2 separate regions of the Homo sapiens genome follow, and region 1 is linked to region 2. Evidence: fine-mapped expression QTL. A gene starts in region 2. The other region holds a variant in brackets. All regions are shown on one strand. Distances are from middle to middle.

Region 1 (4,389 bases), 23 kb after region 2:
AGCTATCTACCCACCTTAGCCTCCCAAAGTGCTGGGATTACAGGTGTGAGCCACCGTGCTCAGCCTCTTAATATTTTTGAAAAATCATTGACTGCAGTTATCTGAAACTGCAAAAAGTGAAACTGCACATAAGGAGGACTACTGTACTAATGTTATCAATCTGTAGAAGATTGAGGGAAATTTGGTACTCGGAGGCAGGAACACAGATTTTTTCTGTGTGTTCAGGATTAAGAGGTAACATATAACAGAAAGCATTTCCTTATTGATAATTTTCTGAGAATGTGCTCAATGACCCCCATTTTCTATTGATCATTTTTGTTTGTTTGTTATTTTAATTTTAGCTGAAAGAGAATTTAAGAAACACAGAGCGGATACATCAGGAGACTCTTAGAAGACTGGAAAGCAGATTTTTTGAAGAAAAGGTACAGATTATTAGGGTTAATTTAAAATGTTTTGTTTACTAGAACATAAGTGTATTTATATGCATTCTGAAACATCAGCCTTCCATTTGGTATCTTAATAGAAGATTAGAAGATTGTTACCAAATTATAGCACAATACAATGAGGGAAAATAAAACCTTCTAGAAATCTCAATATCTAGTCCTTGTTTTCTCTCTCATTCAGAGATTCTTGTCCTCTTCTGAAGGCTTTGGGACATGTCTCCCTCAGCTTGATACTCCCCTGGTGAGACTAAAGCTATGTGTACTCCCATTATATAGGGAAGATGGGAGTGGAGAAATCACTCTCGTATGTGTGCAAAGATGTTTCCTTAGTCAAGCCGAGCTAAAGATGTTAATAAAAAATGTTGCTTAGGCTGGGCACGGTGGCTCACGCCTGTAATCCCAGCACTTTGGGAGGCCGAGGCAGGTGGATCGTCTCAGGTCAGGAGTTCGAGACCAGCCTGACCCTATCTCTACAAAAATACAAAAATCAGCCGGGCATGGTGGCACATGCCTGTAGTCCCAGCTACTCAGGAGGCTGAGGCAGAAGAATTGCTTGAACTCAGGAGGCAGAGGTTGCAGTGAGGCGATATTGCACCACTGCACTCCATCCTGGGTGGTAGAGCAAGACTCCTTCTCAAATAAAAAAAAGTTCCTTAGCACAACACAGCTTCCAACTCCAACTTAATTTCTGTGTTTCTGAAGTTAACTCTCCAAATTGTGGGAAGTACACTGGAACACTTCTACAGAATCCTTTCAGAGGCCTCATGGTTGTTCTTTATTTTAATCCTTTCTTTAACTTTTTATTCTTAGGGAATAATTAAATAGATTCTTTCAGAAATTGGTAGGAATGTAGGCACTTGAGGGTGGGGCAAATGAGGTTTTGTTTGATTGCTTGTTTATTTGAGACAGGGTCTTGTCTGTCGCCCAGGCTGGAGTGCAGTGGTTCAGTCACAGCTCACTGCAGCCTTGACCTCCACCTCCTGGATTCAAGCAATCCTCCTACCTCAGCCTCCTAAGTAGTTGGGGCTACAGGCATATATCATCACACCTAGCTAATTTTTATTTTTTGTAGAAATGGGGTCTTGCTGGGCCTGGTGTGGTGGTTCACTCCTGTAATCCCAGCACTTTGGTAGGCCAAGGTGGGCGGATCACTTGAGGCCAGAAGTTTGAGACCAGCCTGGCCAACATGGTGAAACCCCATCTCTACTAAAAATACAAAAATTAGCCAGGCATGGTGGTGTGCACCTGTAATCCCAGCTACTCAGGAGGCTGAGACGGGAGAATTGCTTGAACCCAGGAGGCAGTGGTTGCAGTGAGCCAAGACTGCTCCACTGCCCTCCATCCTGGGTGATAAAGTGAGACTCTGTCTCAAACAACAACAACAACAACAACAAAACTGAAATGGGGTCTCATTATGTTGCTGGTCTCGAACTCCTGGGCTCCAGCAATCCTTCTGCCTTGACCTCCCAAAGTGTTGGGATCACAGGCATGAGCTACCATGCCTTGCTCCTATGGGGTTTAGATAAAAGGAATTGCTATAGAAAGTGGCTCTAGGTTCCAGTTTGTGTATGGAATAACCTGGAGGAAATGAGGCAAGAGCAGCACCCTGGTGCTTTCCCTCTGAGACCCTCCCTGGCACTGTCAGGAATGGAAGCCCTCAGGAATAGGCTGTTCTCAGGAGCCTCTCCTATTCCACCCTAATCTTGATCTCTTTTCTACTTGGTGTAGAAAATAAAGGTTAGAAAGAGTTGGTCAGTTTACAGAATACCCGAGTAACAGTGCTTATGTAAATAGGATTTTTATATATGAGAGCAGATGGCTGCTGGCCTTTCCTTCATGGTTACAAGGTAGTTAACTGCAGTTTGAAGCTCTGTGTTCAAGACAAGAAGGGAGGCTCCAGCTGTGTCTGTCCCTTTTATCTGGAAGCCATAACAACTTTCCCAGAAGCTGTTAGCACATTTCATCTTACATCTCACTGACCAGAACCATGTTATAAAGAATGCTGGG[C/T]GGCACACACTGTTCTCCCACCTACTCTGGAGACTGAGGCTCAAGGATTGCTTGAGCCCAGGAATTCGGGGCTGCAGTGAGCCATGATTGTGTCACTGTATTCCAGCCTGGATGACAGAGTAAGACCCTGTCCTTCTCTCTCTCTCTTCCTCTTTCTCTCTCTCGCTCTGTTTCTCTCTCTCTCTCTTATACACACACACACACAGACACACACACACACACACACACACACACACACTACTGGGAAAGTGAATGTTTGTTTTCCTCGCCATTAGTGGAAGCTAGGGAGGAAAAAGAAGGATGGGAATGAATGTTGGTTTGGACATCACAGCAGGGTCTGCCTCTCCATGTTAGGTACAAACTTCATGGATATTTCTCCTGTGCTGGTTTGAGCCCCGGTGCTGCAGCTTCATGGCATTGGGCTTTCCAATCGGCCTGTTCATTTACTTTATACCTCAGCATGCCCCAGCCGGCCATATAAAGGATTTCCCAGATCATTGGTGTTTGGTTTGATTTTCCCATTTATTTCTTTCTATTCTTTGAATCACAAAGCCCTGTCCTACATTTATATATATATATTTTTTAAGACAGAGTCGGCCAGGCGCGGTGGCTCACGCCTGTAATCCCAGCACTTTGGGAGGCCGAGGCGGGTGGATCATGAGGTCAGGAGATCGAGACCATCCTGGCTAACAAGGTGAAACCCCGTCTCTACTAAAAATACAAAAAATTAGCCGGGCGCGGTGGCGGGCGCCTGTAGTCCCAGCTACTCGGGAGGCTGAGGCAGGAGAATGGCGTGAACCCGGGAAGCGGAGCTTGCAGTGAGCCGAGATTGCGCCACTGCAGTCCGCAGTCCGGCCTGGGCAACAGAGCGAGACTCCGTCTCAAAAAAAAAAAAAAAAAAAAAAAAAAAAGACAGAGTCTCACTTTGTCACCTAGGTTGGAGTGCAGTGGCATGATCTCGGCTCACTGCAACCTCTGCCTCCTGGGTTCAACTGGTTCTCCTGCCTCAGCCTCCTGAGTAGCTAATTTTTGTATTTTTAGTAGAGACAGGGTTTCACCATGTTGACCAGGCTGGTCTCGAACTCCTGACCTCAGGTGACCTGCCCGCTTCGGCCTCCCAAAGTGCTGGGATTACAGGTGTGAGCCACCACTCCTGGCCTCTACATCCATATTTTTATATTGCTAGTCCCTCCTTCTGGAATGCTGTTCCTCCAGCTCTGGATCATTCTTATTTAGAGCTCAGATATCATTTCTTTAGAGAGAGATTTCCTAAACTCCAATCTAAAATGAGGCTGGGCACGGTGGCTCACGCCTATAATCCCAGCACTTTGGGAGGCCAAGGCCGGCGGATCACTTGAGGAGAGGAGTTTGAGACCAGCCTGGCCAACATAGTGAAACCCTGTCTGTACTAAAAATACAAAAATTAGCTGGGCATGGTGGTGCACACCTGTAGTCCCAGCTACTTGGGAGGCTGAGACATGAGAATCACCTGAACTCGGGAGACAGATGTTGCAGTGAGCCGAGATCATGCCACTGCACTCCAGCCTGGGTGACAGAGTGAGACTCTGTCTCAAAACAATAATAATAAAATAAATAAATAAATAAATAATAAAACGACCTCCTCTAGTTACTATCTACCTTATTACCCCATTTATTTCACTGATAGCATTTATCACAGTCTATTAATTCTTTTTATTTGTTTACTTGTTAGGGGACTGTATAGCATCAGATTGCCTGCATATAAATCCCTGCTCTGCCACTTACTAGCTTTGTGACTTTGGGCAAGTCACCAACCTCTTCTCTTTTTTTTTTTTTTTTAAACAGAGTCACCCAGGCTGGAGTGCAGTGGCACAACCATGGCTCACTGCAGCCTCTACCTCCCAGTCTCATACAATCCTCCTGGCTCAGTCTTCTGAGTAGCTGGGACCACAGGTGCACA
Region 2 (4,389 bases):
ACCTTACACATACAAAATTAATGGTAACTTTATAGATTTTACATCAGAGATAAACTCTTCAATATATGGCGATTCCGCCTATGGACTCACGGGAGTGTGAAAGTATACCAGAAATACACTCAGAAAAAGCTATGATCGGCCAGGCGTGGTGGCTCACGCCTGTAATCCCAGTACTTTGGTAGGCCGAGGCGGGCGGATCACCTGAGGTTGGAAGTTCGAGACTAGCCTGACCAAAATGGAGAAACCCCGTGTCTACTAAAATTACAAAAGTAGCCGGGCATGGTGGCGCATGCCTGGATTCCCAGCTACTCGGGAGGCTGAGGCAGGAGAATTGCTTGAACCTGGGAGGTGGAGGCTGCGGTGGGCCGAGATCGTGCTATTGCACTCCAGCCTGGGAAACAAGAGCGAAACTCCATCTCAAAAAAAAAGAAAAGAAAAAGCCATGATCATGCTGGCAGATGGTATGTATAATAAGGTTTACGCCAGCCTGACCAACATGGAGAAACCCTGTCTCTACTAAAAATACAAAATTAGCCAGGGATGGTGGTGTGTGCCTGTAATCCCAGCTACTCGGGAGGCTGAGGCAGGAGAATCGCTTGAACTGGGAGGTGGAGGTTGCGGTGAGCCGAGATCGTGCCATTGCACTCCAGCCTGGGCAACAAGAGCAAAACTCTGTCTCAAAAAAAAAAAAAAAAAATTTTACAGCCGGGGGCGGTGGCTCATGCCTGTAAATCTCAACACTTTGGGAGACCAAGGCGGGTGGATCACCTGAGGCCAGGAGTTCAAGACCAGCCTGGCTAGCATGGTGAAACTCTGTCTCTACCAAAAATACAAAAATTAGCCTGGCATGGTGGCACGCACCTATAGTCTGTTACTGGGGAGGCTGAGGCAGGAGAATTGCTTGAACCCGGGAGGCAGAGGTTGTGGTGAGCCGAGATTGCGCCATTGCACTCCAGCCTAGGCAACAAGAGCAAAACTCTTGTCTCAAAAAAAAGGTTTACAGCCGGGGCGGTGGCCCACGCCTGTAATCTCAACACTTTGGGAGGCCGAGGCAGGTGGATCACCTGAGGCCAGGAGTTCGAGACCAGCCTGGCCAGCATGGTGAAACTCCATCTCTACCAAAAATACAAAAATTAGCCGGGTGTGGTGGCATGCACCTGTAGTCCCACTTACTGGGGAGGCTGAGGCAGGAGAATCGCTTGAACCAAGGAGGTGGAGGTTGCAGGGAGCCGAGATGCCCCACTGCACTCCAGCCTGGGTGACAGAAGACTCTCTCTCAGAAAAAAAAAAAAAAAAGTTTACAAGGCTTATCATTACCAAATCGGCATGTTCCCTCAGAAGAAACAGAAATTCAGAAACAGAAACTATGCAAGTGGGAAACAAGGCGGAGGGGAGTAATTAGAGGTCAAAGACATCGGGAAGGAGTGTACGGATTAAGTCCTCCCTAGAGAAATGGTGACGAAGGATCTACAACCACATTTAAAATAAACTTTTTAATTTGAAATGGAGTATAACAGAGCAGAGCTTCAACCACAAGTCTCCTAACTATTGGCTTGGCACTCAGAATACCGTACCTTCCTTAATGACTCACTGACTGACTCTCATTGAAAAATGAGAATACTTGTGAGTACACTCCTTTTCAGAGGTGTATTCGGGATTTCAGGAGTCGGGGAGGCAAGTTGAAGAGCTTCCAACTTTATGCAACTTTCAGGAAAGAAGGCTGCGGACCGGTATTAGCAAATGGAAATCCGGGGGGCGGTCGTGGGCAGGAAGTATCGGCCACACAGGACCTAGTGAGGCCGAGGACCCTGCTCCCGACCTCGGTGGCAGCACTCCCCTCCCCGCCCGGCTCCCTGGCGTGCCGCTGCTCTTCGGAGGCTGGCAGCCTCGCCCTCAACCACCGCCCTCGGGAAAGTCCTCGACTGCCTATCAAAAAACATTTGGCCTGGGACGTCCGCTGGCTGCACTATCCCTTACAGAATCAGCAAGGGTGAAAAGCCAGGAAAGAGATGCAACCCAAAGGAGTAAGGCAGTGCCGGGAGCGGCAGAAGCGGAGCGGGGGCGAGGGCAAGGTAGCCGCGGCCACGCTGGCTGCGGCATGGAGACACGGGAGGAACGGGACCCGCGGGCGGCACGGGAAAGGGCTGCGGCTCAGACCACTGCGGCGGGACGGGCGGATCAGCGGGGATCTAAGTCTCCTGAGGCAAGGGCGCCCCGACCGCAGCGACTCCTGACACACCCAGGCCGCAGGACGAAGCGCTACCGCCTGGGGCTGCCAGCTCCCGCCTCCCGCCCGCAGAGCCCGGGCCCCACGTAGAGGATCCGGCGCCGCCGACACTCGCACACTCACCGCGCGCGCGCCACCCTTGCGCGGCAGCCCGCCGCCCTCGGCGCGACCTCCGCCCCACCCCGCGCGCCGCGGCGCCTGGGCTACGTCACGGGCGCGTGCGCTCTCCGCGCGCCGTCAGCGGCGCGGGTGGGGCATTGCCAGCTCGGCGTCCCGGTTCCCTTGGAGACAGAGCTGGCCAGGGCGGCCGCGGCTGGGCAACTACGACAGCGGAGCCCCTGGGGAAGCCAAGATGCCGTCGAAGGGAAAGGACAAAAAGAAAGGCAAGAGCAAAGGCAAAGACACGAAGTAAGGAGAAGCCACCCGAGAGTCCCCTCTCCCTGGGCCTGCCTGGGATTTCGGGTCTGGGGCTGGCAACCTGGCGCCCCCCGCGCCGGCCCACTCGGACCCTCTCCCCGGCTCTCCCGGCTTGTGAGGATTACAGCTCCCATGTCCATAGTCTGGCAGATCTCTACTATGTGTTCAGATTATCTTAAACGTGTAGAGGATGTATAAAGTAGTTCCTTGGGCCTTTTCAGAGATCTCTTTTGGTTCAAAGGGGACACCTAAAGTATTTTACCAAGTTGGATAATTATTGAGGTTTTCCCAAACTGATCAGAGCCACTGAGGTGGGTAATGTTCTAGCACTAACCCCTTACAGGCCTGGAGTTGCTGCTAGATTGCTACTAGCCCTATTGGGGGACCCCGGTGGTTTCTGGACACGTTGGAGTCATACGTGGTGTCCAGCAACAACACCATATATGGGAACACAGAGTTGGCACCAAACTTGAGATGTTTGTAAAGTAACTTAAGAGAGTAATTCATGCTCAATACAGAAAGTTTGGGAAACATGGGAAGTACCAAAAGAAAAAACAAAAATCACCTGTAGTCTCATTATCCAAAAATAAACACTACTATATTTTGGAGTATTCTTTTTTAATAAAACGATAGCCCAATGTACATACTTATATGTGGCTTTTTTCTTCCCATTTGTTAATGTAAGTATTCTTTTATGGTATTTTTTTTTTGTTTTTACATAACTGCACAGTTAGTCTAGCCCTTAAAGTGCCAAGGGCTTATCACATTCCTAGAACTCACTAACATATGTTTTCAGATTTTGACCATGCTTCTACAGTACACATTTGAACAATGAGGAACACTAAGGGTAAGAGACCTTATTCCTTGGATTTTCCATGACCCATTGTTTGAGAAACCTGGCTTTGTTTCTACAGTGAGTATCAGTGGTCCTATTAGAGTGTCTAATTTCTTGCATCAAGTACTTTTTTTTTTTTCTTGACACCAAGTTTTGCTCTTGTTGCCCAAGCCGGAGTGCAATGGCACGATCTCAGCTCACTGCAACCTCTGCCTTCTGGGTTCAACCAATTCTCCTGCCTCAGCCTCCCGAGTAGCTGTGATTACAGGCACCCGTCACCACGCCCAGCTAATTTTTTTATTTTTAGTGGAGACAGGGTTTCACCATGTTGGCCAGGCTGGTCTCGAACTCCTGACTTCAGGTGATCCACCCGCCTCGGCCTCCCAAAGTGCTGGGATGACAGCCGTGAGCCACCATGCCCTGTCGCATCAAGTACTTCGAGCCACTCAGACCTGATACCTGGATGGTCGTAGTGAGACAGTGTATCACTAGTGCCTAAATCATGCCAGAAAGGGACATCAACAGCTATAACAGGCTGAGGGGTTGGGAATGGAGCTGGCCTTAATTTGAAGAGAACAAAAGGTGAAAGTGGGACTTTGGTTCTCTCCACTGCAAACCCATTACCTCTGTGGAAGAGGACTGAGAACCAGAGGTAGGAAAGTGGATGTGGAGGGTGGCAGTATAGAAAGGTCCACATGTACATATGTGTGAAAATATTTAGAATTCAAATACAGGTGAAATATTCTTAAATATGTACATATTTATATATCATGGTACCTACCATATATAAGGGGGAGTGTTTTGTTAATGCTTATACAATAAATATTTAGAAAAATCTCTTCCTTTACCACTTTAATCTTTGAATCCATCCTTTTTCCTCTCCACCTCTATATAAATGATTATGGTTTCT

Direction of the effects. Positions count from the first base shown, and alleles are read on the strand shown. Sizes are in standard deviations (SD) of each study's normalised expression.
For the expression in subcutaneous fat of the gene that starts at base 2,450 in region 2, T is the high allele of the variant in region 1 and C is the other (small effect, 0.27 SD a copy in GTEx).

Evidence for each region. PIP is the estimated chance that this variant, and not a neighbour inherited with it, causes the effect. A credible set is the group of variants that fine-mapping cannot tell apart.
Region 1: its variant is the best candidate, but not a certain one, in a credible set for the expression of BBOF1 in subcutaneous fat (GTEx, PIP 0.84).

Annotation. Positions count from the first base shown.
Region 1 is chr14:74,040,224-74,044,612 of GRCh38, forward strand. BBOF1 (basal body orientation factor 1) reads left to right here. Exons shown (of 12, transcript NM_025057.3): 5 at 342-422. Among named protein-coding and RNA genes, the nearest start is that of BBOF1, 23 kb to the left of the region's middle. RefSeq lists an enhancer at 4,113-4,282. The variant C/T (reference allele first, on the strand shown) is at 2,451.
Region 2 is chr14:74,016,900-74,021,288 of GRCh38, forward strand. It overlaps BBOF1 (basal body orientation factor 1), which reads left to right and starts at 2,450. Exons shown (of 12, transcript NM_025057.3): 1 at 2,450-2,635. The coding sequence starts at 2,580. It overlaps ENTPD5 (ectonucleoside triphosphate diphosphohydrolase 5 (inactive)), which reads right to left and starts at 2,389. Exons shown (of 16, transcript NM_001249.5): 1 at 2,351-2,389. RefSeq lists silencers at 1,747-2,041, 1,957-2,026, 2,067-2,206, 2,217-2,286, 2,317-2,566.